3 separate regions of the Homo sapiens genome follow, and all the other regions are reported to be linked to region 3. The links are microRNA targets in miRTarBase. Many come from high-throughput screens and were not tested one by one. Region 3 holds a microRNA gene; each other region holds the end of a gene's coding sequence.
What was found. Region 3 holds the annotated microRNA hsa-miR-4733-3p (CCACCAGGUCUAGCAUUGGGAU, at 3,517-3,538, shown strand). A microRNA usually pairs through its seed, bases 2 to 8, with sites in the 3' UTR of a target mRNA and lowers its output. Matches are read on the target gene's strand: a 7mer-m8 pairs with bases 2 to 8, a 7mer-A1 pairs with bases 2 to 7 and ends in A, and an 8mer does both.

Region 1 (5,221 bases), not on the chromosome of region 3:
TTGTTTTTGAGATGGAGTCTCACTCTGTCGCCCAGGCCGGAGTGCAGTGGCGCGATCTCCGCTCACTGCAAGCTCCGCCTCCCAGGTTCACGCCATTCTCCTGCCTCAGCCTCCCGAGTAGCTGGGACTACAGGCCCCCGCCACCATGCCCGGCTAATTTTTTGTATTTTTTAGTAGAGACGGGGTTTCACCGTGTTAGCCAGGATGATCTCGATCTCCTGACCTCGTGATCCGCCCACCTCGGCCTCCCATGTTTCCCCCTTTTGAAGATACCAGCATGCTCAGATTCAAATTTTAGGTCCACCTCTGACAAAATGCCTAGAATGTTATCATGTGACCCCACTCTGTTTATTGTATACATATTTTCCCTCCCCTCAAATGTTGTTTCTCCCTATTAAGGGGTTGTTATACTCCCAATAAATATATAAACCTACTATGTACCCACAAAAATTAAAAAATAAAAATTTAGAGGAAAAAAGATATTGTTATAGTACTAGATATACTTTTGCAGGCCCACATTTTAAAAAATGAATAAAGGTGAGAATAACTCAAAATTTAGTAGCTGTAATAAGAGAAAAAAATAGCTTGCTTTCTGAAAAAGCTACAAGGAAAATACAATTCATAAGTTCCAGACAACACCACCAGCTACCAACATAACAAATCTTTCAGCCTAAGGGCAGGTCCCTTCTCTCATCCATCTGCCTTTGGCGTAGTTACAATGACAGAGATGGTACCTCAGCAGGCTGGCACCTTTTCTTGCTCAATGTTTGCTTTTAATTTTTATTTCATTTTTTAAAAATTTTTATTTTTTTGAGACGGAGTCTCACTCTGTCACCCAGGCCGCTGTGCAGTGGCAGGATTTCCGCTGACTTCAACCTCCGCCTCCCAGGGATCAAGCAATTCTCCTGCCTCAGCCTCCCGAGTAGCTGGGATTACTAGTGCACACGACCATGCCTGGCTAATTTTTATATTTTTAGTAGAGATGGGGTTTCGCCATGTTGGCAAGGCTGGTCTCGAACTCCTGACCTCAAGTGATCCACCCACCTTGGCCTCCCAAAGTGCTGGGATTACAGGCATGAGCCACCACACCTGGCCAATGTTTGCTTTTTAAACAAAGCAAAGAAAATTGAGATGAATTGTTCCAAAACGTTTTAATTATCATGAATATCATAAGTCATACAAAAAAATAAAGAATAATACAACCAACACTCATGCACCTGCCATCCTATAGCTTAAACATACTATATCACATCTGACTATTACCTAGTCTGTCTTTCCCCAATTAGTGATGCCTCTATAGTGAGATCTATAAATGTTGGTTCTGTTTCTTTTGTTTCTGAAACTCTAGAACCTGTTCAGTACATATTGAATAAAAAAGCAACTTTTCACTGAAAGAGAAGGATAAGCGGACATCTTTCAACAGCAGAAAATGTATATCACTGCCTGTTCTTCTCCATCCACAAGGCTGAGGAGGGGATGAGGCTGACTCTCAATGGGGAGAAGTCAGCACCGCCACCCTCCTTAAAGGATTCTTGATGCTCACCAAACTATGCAAAAGAAAACCTCTCTTCTGGCTAAAAGGACCATGACGCGAATGCCCAGAAAGACAAGTTATTGTCTGTTCTCACCAAGTTTTTTTAAAAAAGGACTTTTTGTGACTCTAACACCAAGGTTTGGTGTTAGAATTAAATTCAAGGGACATGACATTGTCTTTGATTTTGTTATACACTTTGAGAAGCACATAAGGCTGAACTCCAGGAGATAAGAACCAAGGAGGGGACATAAAATCATAAATGTCCATAAACTCTGAATATGAAGCCACTCTACAGATACACAAAGTACATTTTTAGCTGAAACTTCATACAAGAAATATTGAAGGTAGACACTAAAGAAAAAATGCATTTAAAATTCATTTTAAATTAATAAAATATATTTAATTAATATTCAATCAATTAATGATAAAAATAGGGGCAGCTTTAAATAGTCTGTCAACAAATTTTGAGTATTGTCTGCTGACACTAGAGATATACTGGCACAGGACTTGTCCTCATGGAGCTTACAGTCTAGTGAAAACAGATCAATGTTAAATCAGTAATTATAAGTAGATAACCAAATAATAGTGCTGTAAAGGAGAGGATCTGCATTAAAATGTCTGAAATCAAAAGCTGGGCACAGTGGCTCACACTTGTAATCCCAGAACTTTGGGAGGCTGTGGCGGGAGGATGGCTTGAGCCCAGGAATTCAAAACTAGCCTGGGCAACAAAGTGAGATGCCATCTCTACCAAAAAGAAAAAAAAGAAAAAAAAAATTAGCTGGATGTGGTGATGTGTGCCTGTAGTCCCAGCTACTTGGGAGGCTGAGGCAGGGGAATCGCTTGAGCCCAAGAGGTCAAGGCTGCAATGATCTGTGATCATGCCACTGCACTCCAGCCTGGGTGACAGAGTGAGACCCTGTCTCAAAAAAACAAAAAGCCTGAAATCAGTCATGAAAGTATCTACTGCAAAAGGTGACATAGACGTGGATAAGAAAAACATATTCTTGATGACAAAAGTGACCTAATTTTTTTTTTTTTTTTTTTGAGATGGAGTCTTGCTCTGTCACCAGGCCGGTGTGCAGTGGCATGATCTCGGCTCACTGCAACCTCCGCCTCCCGGGTTCAAGCGATTCCCCTGCCTCAGCCTCCCAAGTAGCTGGGACTACAGGTGCATGCCACCATGCCCAGCTAATTTTTTGTATTTTAGTAGAGACGGGGTTTCACCGTGTTAGCCAGGATGGTCTCGATCTCCTGACCTCATGATCTGCCCACGTCAGCCTCCCAAAGTGCTGGAATTACAGGTGTGAGCCACCGCACCTGGGCAAGTGACCTAATTTTTGTAGAGCATGCCTTCTTACTTGTTTTCCATCATAATTAATATGATGCATTTGTCAGCGGAAGGTCTTGGAAATGGGGCAATGTGCCATCTGGAAAGTTCCCTCCTGCATGAAACTGGCCTGAGTAGGTGGATAAATCCATTACTTTAGGGCATTGTTCTCCTATCAGTTAGCTGATGAGGACAAGTCCACTCATATGATGTGGCAGTGCTGAGTCTTTGAAGAGGTTGCGTTTTTAATAAACAGTTCAAAACAATAAACCCCACCCCACCCCACCTAACTTCATTTGCCTCTTCTTTCGGTGATCTCAGGAACCAGAGTCAGAGTTGTACTTTTTACCCTTAACTCTTCACAGCACGTGAGTGTGCAATCATTAGGCTCCATCTCAACAATCCTTGAGAACAGAGCACACCTCATCTTTCAAATCTCACCTAGTGCTGGGAACAACACAAAGTCCTACAAATGTGATAATGAAACAAACTGACCCTGAATCCCACAGGCTCTGAACAGATACATTAGGGAAGCCTGAGCCTGGAGCCTGCTCTCCAACTGAGCAGCAGGAGAGATGGGGTGGCACAGGCTTTCAAAAGATGCAGTGGGCTGCAGCAGGCAGACATTTGGGGGAGAAGTGACTGGAAAAATACAACCATCCAGGGGGAAGATGATGAAGGGACTGGGTTCACACATGGACAGCAGGCTTCAGAAGGACGCCAGCAGAATGAATGTGGAGTGGATGTACTCACTCTGCATTGCTCCAGAGGACAGGGTAAGACCCCAGGCTGGAAGTCATGCAGAAGCAGATAAGGCACACACAAGCTCCGCACAGGGAGAAACTTCTTAGAAACTCAGCGGGATGGGTAACTTCATTAGAGAATGAGATTTCCTCACTGGACATTTTCATCTGGAGGCTGCAGGAGCAGTGGTCAAAGATGATACAGACAGGATTCCTGAATGCCAAAGTTCCTCCCTCGATAGGATTTGGAGGCTCTCGGGTGATGGACCAACACCATCCTGTGGGCTTGTGGAGGGGAGGATGACAACCTGCATAAGCACAGCCATCACTGAGTGTAACTTCAGGCTCGTGAGCCATCCTCAGTGCATCAACTCAGTGGGGGATGAGGACGGAGGCCAGGGATGGGAAGCAACAGGAAAGGAATTGCTGGCCTGTGCCTTTGCTCAGAATATAAATATTCTGGTAGAAACTCCCCTCAAGGAATGTGGTCACAAGTTACCCTCTGGGCCCCTGAGCATAAACCCACACCATCATGTACATGGGAGGAGAGGAGCACCTTCTCATACCCAGGATCACTGGGCATAGACTCCCTTCCTCACTACAAACGGGTTGGAGAGATCCAAAGATGCTCTCTAAAAACAAAGTAACAATGTGAGAAAATGGCAAAATAGGGACCCGCAGTAAGTTCAATCTTCCCAGTGAACTTCATTAAAAATTTCATCTGATTACAAGTGATTATACTTCAAATACCTACAGGAGCCTCACTGGATGTGGGTGCAGCATTCGTTCCTGAGGCCTCAGAAGTGCTCTCCTGAGCACAGCCAGTGCAAATTTGCAGGGTGAGAAGTCAAAGGCAGAAGGAAGCAGGTGAGAGCATTCCCTGCCTCTAAAGAAAAAGAGCTCTCCTTATTCAAAACATCAAGTTCTACTGAACCAAGTTGCAGATCTTAACAATAATAGAGATCACTGTAAAAGAGAAACTTTATGCTAAAAATTTTTTTTAGGAGGTAACATCCTGGTGTTTCTCAGATGCAGGTAAATCATGACCTTCCACATTCTCTTTCAACACAGGGAGCACCTGAGATCCTACAGACAGGAAACATGGGGAGGATAAATCCAATGATGCATGCATCAGGTACATGCCAAAGTTCACCTGTGAACAAAACAGCAACAACAACAAAAAAGGCTAGATTATTTTAGCAATTAAAATAACTTTGTAAATATTAATGTTTAACTAAAATCAAGTCAGATTTTTAAAGACATATACTGAGACTTGATATCTCCTATCTGTTACACAGTAGAATGCACTGGAACATTAAGAGAATCCTAACTTTAGACCCCAAAGATTCTCATTCTAAGGCATCCTTTCCCTGTGGTCACCCCACACCTCTTTCTTGCTGGGCACATCTCTGTCCCACATGCCCTGAACTTCCTGCAGAAGGACTTTCTTCCTACTCTCAGCTTGTGACCACCATCAGGCCCATTTCCTGTTTGCTGCCTGATGTAAAAGCCTTTTGGGGAAGACAGTGGCAGAACTCTGCATTTTCCTTGAGAAAGAATGATGCAAGTTAATTTTGTCAAATTCTCCTGAATAAGGATGGAAGGTCCAAAATGAAG
Region 2 (5,221 bases), not on the chromosome of region 3:
CCCCGGCCCGGGGAGCCCCCAGCTGCCAGCCGGCCCCCAGGAGTCCGCGGCCGAGCCCACCCCGGCGGTACCTCTGAAACCGGCCCAGGAGCCGCCGCCAGGGGCCCCGCCAGAGCACCCGCAGGACCCGATCGAAGCCCCCCCCTCCCTCTACAGCTGCGACGACTGCGGCAGGAGCTTCCGGCTGGAGCGCTTCCTGCGGGCCCACCAGCGGCAGCACACCGGGGAGCGGCCCTTCACCTGCGCCGAGTGCGGGAAGAACTTCGGCAAGAAGACGCACCTGGTGGCGCACTCGCGCGTGCACTCCGGCGAGCGGCCCTTCGCCTGCGAGGAGTGCGGCCGCCGCTTCTCCCAGGGCAGCCATCTGGCGGCGCATCGGCGCGACCACGCCCCCGATCGGCCCTTCGTGTGTCCCGACTGCGGCAAGGCCTTCCGCCACAAACCCTACCTGGCGGCGCACCGGCGCATCCACACCGGCGAGAAGCCCTACGTCTGCCCCGACTGCGGCAAAGCCTTCAGCCAGAAGTCCAACCTGGTGTCGCACCGGCGCATCCACACGGGCGAGCGGCCCTACGCCTGTCCCGACTGCGACCGCAGCTTCAGCCAGAAGTCCAACCTCATCACCCACCGCAAGAGCCACATCCGGGACGGCGCCTTCTGCTGTGCCATCTGTGGCCAGACCTTCGACGACGAGGAGAGACTCCTGGCCCACCAGAAGAAGCACGATGTCTGAGACGGTGGGCGGGGCCGTGTTGGCTGAGAGAGGGCTGGGGTCCTTCGTGGTGGGAGTCGCAGTGGGCTGGGGGTGCCTGCCTAGTGCTGGAGTAGGGGACAATGGGAATCCTAGAGGGGATGGAAGACGCGGGGAGTGAGCTGGGTGGGCCCTGCTAGCGAGAGAGGTCAACCCCGGTGGCCAGGGAACCCACTTCCAAGCGCAGGGACGCCGGCCTCCAGCTGGTGTGTGCTAAGGCTCCGTCCTGACTGCCCTGTGCCCTGGAAAAGCAGCAATAGCATCCGCCCCTTAGAGCCCTCTGGCTAGAGGAGCCACCAGTGGAAAGGAAGACCCTCCATCCTCTGGTATTAACGCCTTAATGCCCCTGTCTTTTACTGTAAGTTACTTAAGATCATTTTTGGAAGCAGGCGTGGTAGAGTCCTGTAAATGAATGCTCTGGGCTAGATACAGCTTGGAGAACCTGCTGGCCTTGTTAGACAGCACTTGGGCCTTTGCCAGCAGCAAGAGGTGAAGCGAAGCCACTCTTACCTCTCCCTTCCCCTCCCACCTGCCCCCTGCGTAGGCACCCAGACTTGGAGAGACCCGTCTGCTGTTAATACTTCCATCCTCTTCCTTCCCAAAGAGCAGATCCCAAGGCATTTACTCCTTGGTCTGTCTCGCTTTATCTGTCGCCCCTCCCAGCGCTGAGAGCCTCCCCTGGCTGTCAGCAGCACTGTGTCCAGGCTCTTGTCTGAACACCGCAGCCCCTCCTTCGCTCCTTCCAGAGCTCAGCATGTCACGGCAAGGACTGCCGCATTGGTGATGGAGGGCCAGCTGAGGGGAAGTTGCTGGTGAGTTTCCTTTTCTCCATTTCTAGCATATGGACACCTGGCCTCTGCTTGAGCACTTAGGTGACAGGAACTTCCGCACCTCCTGAGGCCCTGGATGATTCTAATTGTTAGAAATTCTAATTGTTAGAAATCCTTCCTTATAATGAATGAATTCTGCTTTCCTATAATTTCTACCTATTGGGCCTTGTTCTGTTCTCTGGAACTAAACAGAACAACCATTTACCCCTCCTTTTCAAACTAGAGAATAAAGATTTGGTTTTAGAACTGGTGGCTGGGGAGTGTTACTTTTTCTGGGGGAGCTGCGACATGTCAGGAGGAGCAGCATGCTCTCCTCCCTAGAAGGACGGGGGGCTGTGGGTGGGGCTCTGGCCACAGGCCACATGCCCAGCTTGCTGAGCTCTGGCCCCCTGCCTCAGTTCTTCCCTGAGCATACCCAGGCAGTTGGGCTAATTCTCTGGGTGGTGGGCCGAAGCTCCAGAGAACTGTGGTGGGTGGAATGCTCTCAGCTTGGTCCCAAGATTTATGTTCTTGGTCACTTGCCCTCCTAGATGGGCCCAGCAACACCTAATCTTTCTCACCACCTGGGCCTTTATGAAACTACAGCAAGCACTATGAGCTCTTTTGAGGGGTGCTGGGTGTTAAACGGACTTTGGTTATACTTGGACTGTGCCTCCAGTAGTCCTTCAGAGGTTGGACAGATGAAGGAGCCTCTGGGAGGGGAGGCTGTTCCCTGCAGCTAAGACAGCACTCAGCTTCCACACTCCACACACCAGGGTTTCAGCCTTCTTTGAGGTTGTTGTCAAACCCAGCCTGGGTCCACTTGCCCAGTGTTTGCAAAGCCTAACACCGACAGTGAGATTTGCAGCCAGAGAAAGTAAGGCGTTTATTGCAGAGCACCAGGCGAGGAGAATGGGCAGCTAAGGCTCAAACTCCCTGATGGCTTTTAAGCAAGGGTTTTTAAGGCAGGGGTGGGGAGGTTTCAAAGGGAGTTAGGGGCTGAGGAATTTCTGGAACTTCCTTATCCATTTTCTGGTTCCAGTCTGTCTGAGGTCTACGTGCTGGCATTGTCACGTGGTGACATTGGTGGGGGTCCTGGCTCCTGAAAAACAACTCAAGGATATATGTCAAGATGTTATCTTTAGGCCAGGCATGGTGGCTCATGCCTGTAATCCCGGCACTTTGGGAGGCCGAGGTGGGTGGATCACCTGAGGTCAGGAGTTCAAGACCAGCCTGGCCAACATGGTGAAACCCCATCTCTACTAAAAATACAAAATTAGCTGGGTGTGGTGGCGGGCCCCTGTAGTCCCAGCTACTAGGGAGGCTGAAGCAGGAGAATTGCTTGAACCTGGGAGGCGGAGGTTGCAATGAGCTGAGATCGTGCCACTGCATTCCAGCCTGGGCAACAGAGTAAGACTTTGTCTCAAAACAAACAAACAACCCAAAAAACAAAACAAACAAAAAGATGTTATCTTTAGTTTCTATGAGGAAGCTAACATTCTGTGACTACTACTTGAGTGACTATTGTTTAAGCTATTATTACTTTCTTGCTTAGCGGGTTATTCATTCATTTCCCCAATTCATGGTTGTAGAGCTAGCTAGGTGCCTGGAATTTCCCTGGGAGGGACTCACATTTTTGTTTATTCTCATGCTTTTCAAGTGATGGGCAGAACCCAGCAGGCTCCTAAGTGGAGTCTCTGAGGCTGGGCGTGGTGGCTCACGCCTGTAATCCCAGCACTTTGGGAGGCCGAGGCAGGTGGATCACCTGAGGTTAGGAGTTTGAGACCAGCCTGACCAACATGGAGAAACCCTGTCTCTACTAAAAATACAAAATTAGCCGGGCATGGTGGTGCATGCCTGTAATCCCAGCTACTCGGCAGGCTGAGGCAGGAGAATCACTTGAACCCAGGAGGCAGAAGTTGCAGTGAGCCGAGATCGCGCCATGGCACCCCAGCCTGGGCAACAACTCTGTCTCAAAAAATAAAAATAAAAAAAAATTAAAAAAGAGGGTCTCTGCTCCATCTCAAGGTCAGGTCAGACTTTTCAGGTGCTAGTTGCTAGGCAGGAAAGGGGGCTGATTTGATTCTGTCCTACAGTGTCCCTGGCCGGCCTGCTGTAGGACTCCAGATTTCTGTGAGCAGTCACTCTGTATGCGTCCCTGAATTGGTGGTTTCATACAAATTTGAGTACCTCTTTTTACCAGGCATTAATAGTTCTTTTCTTGCCTGTGTTAGCAATTTCTGCATATATCTCCAGCATTTAGCACAGAGCACATAAGAATAACCACAATTTGTTGACGTGAGTGGCACCTGGTGAAGTTTACCTAAATTATCTCATGTGTCCTTGTGTGGGAGGTAGTCTTCTTTTATACATGAAAACATTTGCCCACAGTCATATAACTGGTAATCACCAGAGGCAGATTCAAATTCAAGTCTGTCTGACTCCTGAAACCTGTGCTCTTGACAACCGCTGTGTGCTTAGTGGATGAACGCTGCGTGCTGCTGTTTTTGGTTAAGTATTAAATGCCAACTGTGTGGGTGGGGCTTAAAGTGTGTAGGATGGAAAGAACAGCTTCAAAGCTTCATATTGGTTTATGGGGTTATGGAGCCACTTAAAAACCTGTGTAGTTGATGGCAAATTATCTGTCAAAGCCTGGGAGCAGAGGGCGTGGTCTCAAGAAAGCCCCAGTCACATTTTTTCTCTTTGTGGGAACACAGGGTTTCCAGGGAAGGGGAGATGGCCAGGAAAGAGTAGGTCGATGTCTGGAAATGATGGGCAGGGAGCAGGGGCGGGTCCTTGGGTTGGCACCTAGGTTAGTATTGGAGCCGTTAGGGACAAGGATGAGGGTGAGAGGGGATCTGACCAGGGGTCCTAACCTTTTGAAAAGTCCCGTTTAAAGGAAATAGTCTGGGATATGGGGAAAGCGGGGTGTGGGTGTCGTCAGTGCTTCACTGCCCACTGCTTGTTATGGGGATGGGAAAGAGAGGTCCAAAGGACGGAAAGGTCACACAAGTGGCCTTGAGGGGGCTGGTAAAGCAGGAACAGAGTCAAATTGTGCCTGGTTCCTTCCTGAGTCCCTTGGTGGGTGGCCCAGTGGTTCTCAAGCCCTTGCTCTGCCTGGTTCATCACCACAGCAGTCACTGGGGAGGACTGCCTGGGTTGTAGGGGTCTGCTGGCAGGAGCTGCCCATCTCTTCTGAAGAATCCACAGTTTTTCTTTGTTTTCTTCTACAATTACAAAAGCATTAAATTATCTTTAAAAATAAATAATTCAGATAATAATGTGAACGTTCTCCTTCATTCCCCTATTCCACTCTCAAAATCCTTTTTGTTTACACTGAGAAAAGTTTGAGGAGTATTCTCCTAACACTTTTTTCCTGTGTATTTGCAAACACATATGCAGCCTCTCCCCCTGGTATTTTTTTTCTTAGTGGAAATAGGATCCCAGAGGTTCTCCATTCTTTCCACCTCTGAAATACCCTTGGTCATGGGATGCCAATCTGGAGGAAGTCTGCTCTGTAAGAAGGAAACAGGCCCAGAGAGTGGAAGTGACCCCCACCGGTGGGGGTCCTAATTTCTGAAAAACAACTCAAGGACATATGTCAAGATGTCATCTTCAGTTTCTATAAGGAAGCTAACGTTTTGTGACTCTTATTTGGGTA
Region 3 (5,221 bases):
TGAAACCCCCGTCTCTACTAAAAATACAAAAATTAGCCAGGCACGATGGTGCACACCTGTAATCCCAGCTACTTGGGAGACTGAAGCAGGAGAATCACGTGAATGTGGGAAGCAGGGGTTGCAATGAACCGACATCAAGCTACTGCACTCCAGCGTGGGCGACAGAGCAAGACCTTGTCTCAAAAAAAAAAAGTGAGGAATAATCTCTCCTATATATCTTTCTCTTAATTACAACATAAGGAATGCAGAAAAATGCTGTTTTAAAAACTAATGTCCTTAATTTTTAACAGATGGTGGTGAGTTTGATTCCACAATATGCATAACAAACAACGAAGCCTTAAGGTCTTTTAAAGCTAGGGACAGAAGGAGAAACACTTTCTTGCTTTACTGGGTATATAATCAAAATCATTCCTCCTTTTTTTTTTTTTTTTTTTTTGGAGACAAGAGTCTCGCTCTGTCGCCCAGGCTAGAGTGCAGTGGTGTGATCTCAGCTCACTGCAACCTCCACCTCCCGGATTCAAGCAATTCTCCTGCCTCAGCCTCCCGAGTAGCTGGGATTACAGGCGCCCGCCACCATGCCCAGCTAATTTTTGTATTTTTAGTAGAGACGAGGTTTCTCCATGTTGGTCAGGCTGGTCTCAAACTCCTGACCTCAGGTGATCCACCTGCCTTGGCATCCCAAAGTGCTGGGATTACAGGCGTGAGCCACCGCGCCCAGCCCAAAATCATTCCTCTCTTAAGTATCTTTTTCCAATATGGCAAATAAGCCTAGAGATGAACAGGTAAGAAGTAAAAAAATAAAATTAAGAAAAAACTGAAAAAAATTTTTAATTTTTAAAATTTAAGGAGAATTGCGGCGTGGATCCTTCAATTTCCTACATCCAGATTCTGCTGTCCACAAGGTTCAGCTTTGGAAGTCTTCTATGTGCCTTTTAAATCCTTTCTTAAAATTACAGAGTCTTTTCTACCAAGTTTTAAATCTAACGCTCTATCAATAATGTAATCTTTTATATGCAGTAACATTATACTTCAGATGGATTAGTAGTTTAGTTTAGATGCCTTTGGGTCTGGAAGCATACGAATGGATAAAACAATTCCTTCAAGTCTCTGACAGCTTCATAACTCTATTTTATCTACATAGCTTCTTCTCAACTTCCTCTGTCTATTCCAAGATATTTTCCAGGTAGGTCTGAAACGCTGAGTCCCGTAAAGAAATGTTTATGCATCAAATAACAGAAGAGCTCTTCCCCCACCCCTTCAGCTCCCATAATGTTTTACCATTATATCCAGTAAACAAAATAGGTTGACTCAATCTTAAACAATTCCCCCATCACAGGAAGCCCACTGCACCCACAGCTGCAGAAAGCATCCCTTAAACCATCCCCAACTACCTACAGCAACACAAAGTTAAACCAATTTCCACTGACAAAAGGCTATGTGTGCATTTATTCTAATCAGCCCCAGGATTTATTGTGTGAAACTCAGGCGATAAAAAGTCACCTCCTCAAGCTACAAAACTTTTTTTTCATCCCAAATATTCTCAATGAAAGTTCTCTTGTCAACCAGGAGAGAGTCAAAAACAACCACAAACACTAGCAGAATGATCCGCTCCAGGACCACATCCCAGCTGGCTTTGCTCTGTTGTCGGTGGCTCTGAAGCAGTTTCTCACTTTCCTTTCACCCTTCTCCCCTTTACTCCCCAACATTCTCACTCGAGAATGCATCACATCCTCAGACCGCTGGCAAAAAAAAAAGGGGGGGGGGAAGAGACTGCAATTATCAAGGAAGGGGAAGATATTTCAGAACCACGGTTTCCACTGCAAACGGCAATAAAAAAAAAAGGCAGTCTGTGTCATCAGGATATGGGGGACGACGTTGTAGGGCATCACAAAGATGTGCAGTGAGTGTGCACTTGAAGCTCTCGGGGCAGGATGAGACGATGGAGCAGAAAGTAAGAAAACCTGTGCCTTCCTTGCTTTCTTCTGCTCTTCCCCCTCCAGGAGAGGAAGCTGAAGAAACTGGGGGAGGGGCGGAATGTTATCGTTCTCCTATTGAGGGTATATAAGACAGGCCTTAGGGTTCGCTCGTCCCCAGTTAGGAGGGTCACGGAGGGAAGAGGAAGAGAGAACCCCTAAACGTTACCCACCTCTGCTCAAAAACAAAAGTAAGGGGGTAATTATTAAATCCAGATGGCGCGCCCCTAAAGGCGCCCCCAGGTCACTCATCCCCATTTCCAAGCGGAAGGGCTGGGATAAAGGGGATGGAGGGTCGGAGGCTGGTCAGGGACAAGGCCCCACCCCCCGACTTAGGAGGGAAAGGGTGCCCAAGCTCCCAGCTGTCCCCTCCTACCCCTCACCTCCCGCCTTGGCCACCCCCACTTATCCCCCCTTCCCTTCTCTTCCCTTCCCTTCCTTTCCTCCAGAGCCTGAGGCAGCCGCGGGGGAGGCGGCCGCTCCTACCTCCCCTCACCTACTCTGTCCCCACCCCCACTCCGCTCCCACCTCCCGCCCGCCACGGGCCGGTTACCTGCTCGTCGAAGCGGCTGACCACGGCCTGGACCCATTCCACCGGCCTGTGCGCGGCCATGTCCTCCCCGCGGCCGGGGGGCGGCGGAGGGAAGGGTGGGCCGGCGCCCTGGGCCGGGAAGAGGGCGGGGAGCGGAGGCTGAGGTGAGGGAAGAGGCAAGGAGAGGGTCTGTGGAGTGCAGGCTCCCAGTGTTCCCACGGGGGTGGGGATGGGGGGTCAGCGCCGAGCGGGAGGGGGAGAGGGAAAGGGGGCGTTGGCAAGGAGGCTGGGGGGAGGGGGATAGGGGAAGGGGACCCGGGGAGGGGAGGGGGCCTCTTGGTCGCTCTCCCCACTAGCGCCGTCTCCCCACAGCCATCACAGTCCGAGACGCCGCCATGACACCCCACCGGAAGTGGGATCCTTTCCACGGCCCGGGGAGAGGGAGCGCGAGCGAGCTAGAGATTGAGAGCGCGGCTGGGAAAGGGGAGGGGGAAGCGAGAGGGAAGGCGGCCTGCCGCGCATGCGCCCGCGCCGGCCGGTTTCATTAATGAAAAAGCGAGTCCTCCTGGAGGTGACGTCATCTAACTCCTCTGGGCCGTCTGGCGAGCGTCCCTCACCGCCGTGGGGCTCACCTAGACTGGCGCTGGGCTCAGCTGGCGAGTGCCAGAGCTGACCCGGGAGCATCCACTCCCATCCCCACCGCCCCCTACAGCTGTCCCCTCCCCCGCCGGCCTCCGGGTTTGGATTGCTCCCGGAGTTGGAAGTTAGGGCGCCCTGGGGCTAGCCTTTCTCCCAGCGCGCGGATCTCTGCCGCTAATCTCCTGGGGAGGCTGTGCTCTCAGCTTAAGCTCTCAGAAAAAATAAGGTACACGACCTCCGATTTTCAGGTTCTTCGTAGCTTGGTAGACTGCTGAGAAACAAAAAAGGAAGGCCAAAGAGAGATTCCGTGATTTTTTTTTTTTAGAGGTCGCTTAAATCCCAATGCTAGACCCGGTGGCAATCAAGGTCTAGCCACCAGGTCTAGCATTGGGATTTAAGCCCAGCTTTCCTCTGCAAAACTCATAGCCATCCAAGTTAATATAACTATTGCACAGTTGATGAGAGATTCAAGTTTCACCACCCTCAAAACACCTTTAAGGCCTTGCATTCATTATTAATTCAATATATTCATCGTCTTATTTAAATCCTTGAACAAACCTTTTCAATACATATCATTAACTTCATGAACTGATGAATACGTCACGTCCCCACCCCCGTGGGAACGCTGGGAGCCTGCACTCCTCCCTCAGACCTTTGATTTGCCCAAGGTCTGAGTTGACAGGTGGCAAAGTCAGGATGTAAACCAACGTGGTTTAACTCCTAGAACAATAGAGGTAGACTATGGGTCTCCTAAAACAAAGTCCTTCCCTATACCTCCAATACCAGAGTTGAAAGGATTTCATGTGTAATTGGGTTGTGCCAGTTTTCCAGGAAGAGGATTACATCCAAAACAACGGATAATCTATGTCTGACATTGGACTTTGGAATGACTAATTTTTTTTTTTTTTTTTTAAGACAGAGTCTCACCCTGTCACCCAGGCTGGAGTGCAGAGGCGCGATCTCGGCTCACTGCAACCTCCGCCTCCCGGTTGAAGTGATTCTTCTGCCTCAGCCTCCCGAGTAGCTGGGACTACAGGCATGCGCCACCACAGCCGGCTAATTTTTGTATTTTTAGTAGAGACGGTGTTTCACCATATTGGCCAGGCTGGTCTTGAACTCCTGACCTCATGATCCGCCCACCTCAGCCTCCCAAAGTACTGGGATTACAGGTGTGAGCCACCGCACCTGGCCTGGAATGAGTAATTTTAAAATTTGTCTTCCTCGATACATTTTACCTAGGCAAATGTTTTTGTTTTTCAGAGACAAGGTCTGACTCTGTGCAGTGGAGTGCAGTGGCTCAATCATAGCTCACTCCAGCCTCAGACTCCTGGGCCGAAGTGATCCTCCCACCTCAAGCTCCTGAATAGCTGGGACTACAGGTGAGTGTCACCCTGCTTTGGCTAATTTTTTTTTTTTTTTTTTTTTTGGTAGAGACACAGTCTTGCTATGTTGCCCAGGCTGGTCTGGAACTCCTGGCCTCAAGTGATCCCCCTGCCTTGGCCTCCCAAAGTGCTGGGATGACAGGGGTGAGCTACCACACAGGCCCCTAGGCCAATGTTAAAATGAATTTACACATTCCAAGCACGCGCTAATCAGCCAGTTAAGCCACACAGACACTGGGTGATAAGGGAGAACAAAACTAGAATTTTAATTTTCCTACAGAAAAGCCACAAAGCCAGTAGCCCACATACAGAGAGATATATCCTTGAGAAAAGTTTCCAATCTCTAGGTTGGTGGTTGTCCAAAATACATATTAAATTAATGTTTTATTCCACTAGAACAGACAGACAGTTTGGACATGTCTTTTGTCCCTTCTTCTTTAAGGATGCAATGCAGATACTAATTTCTTTTAGATGATGTCAGAATGATGACTATGCTGGAAAGAAATGGATGAATATTAAATGAATGTCTATCTATGTTTCTCCCAAGTAGGACCCCTGAAAAAGCACTCACTCATACCCCCAAGATAGTATTCCAGTGCCCCCTACTGCACTGCTAAACTTCAGACCTATGACCTTCCTCTCCTTTTCTCATACTTCCTCTGAAAGTCCCTAACTACTTCCTTGTTGCCATGGCT

Region 1: the mRNA of MOCOS is a reported target of hsa-miR-4733-3p. Seed matches in the 3' UTR shown: 8mer at 2,598-2,605.
Region 2: the mRNA of REPIN1 is a reported target of hsa-miR-4733-3p. Seed matches in the 3' UTR shown: 7mer-A1 at 1,561-1,567.

The regions. Positions count from the first base shown.
Region 1 is chr18:36,268,069-36,273,289 of GRCh38, reverse strand. MOCOS (molybdenum cofactor sulfurase) reads right to left here. Exons shown (of 15, transcript NM_017947.4): 15 at 1,133-4,757. The coding sequence ends at 4,605. Among named protein-coding and RNA genes, the nearest start is that of FHOD3, 27 kb to the left of the region's middle.
Region 2 is chr7:150,372,213-150,377,433 of GRCh38, forward strand. It overlaps REPIN1 (replication initiator 1), which reads left to right. Exons shown (of 3, transcript NM_001099695.2): 3 at 1-1,827. The coding sequence ends at 733. It overlaps REPIN1-AS1 (REPIN1 antisense RNA 1), which reads right to left and starts at 731. Exons shown (of 4, transcript NR_183429.1): 1 at 629-731. RefSeq lists enhancers at 1,126-1,245, 1,306-1,455.
Region 3 is chr17:31,092,675-31,097,895 of GRCh38, reverse strand. It overlaps MIR4733 (microRNA 4733), which reads left to right and starts at 3,471; the gene lies at 3,471-3,546. NF1 (neurofibromin 1) reads right to left here and starts at 2,919. Exons shown (of 58, transcript NM_001042492.3): 1 at 2,527-2,919. The coding sequence starts at 2,586. It overlaps MIR4733HG (MIR4733 host gene), which reads left to right and starts at 2,406. Exons shown (of 4, transcript NR_186435.1): 1 at 2,406-2,669; 2 at 4,405-4,523. LOC124903974 (a long non-coding RNA gene) reads right to left here. Exons shown (of 2, transcript XR_007065704.1): 2 at 4,769-5,020. RefSeq lists silencers at 2,515-2,564, 2,605-2,674, cis regulatory regions at 2,530-2,840, 3,067-3,306, an enhancer at 2,909-2,926 and a promoter at 2,914-3,339.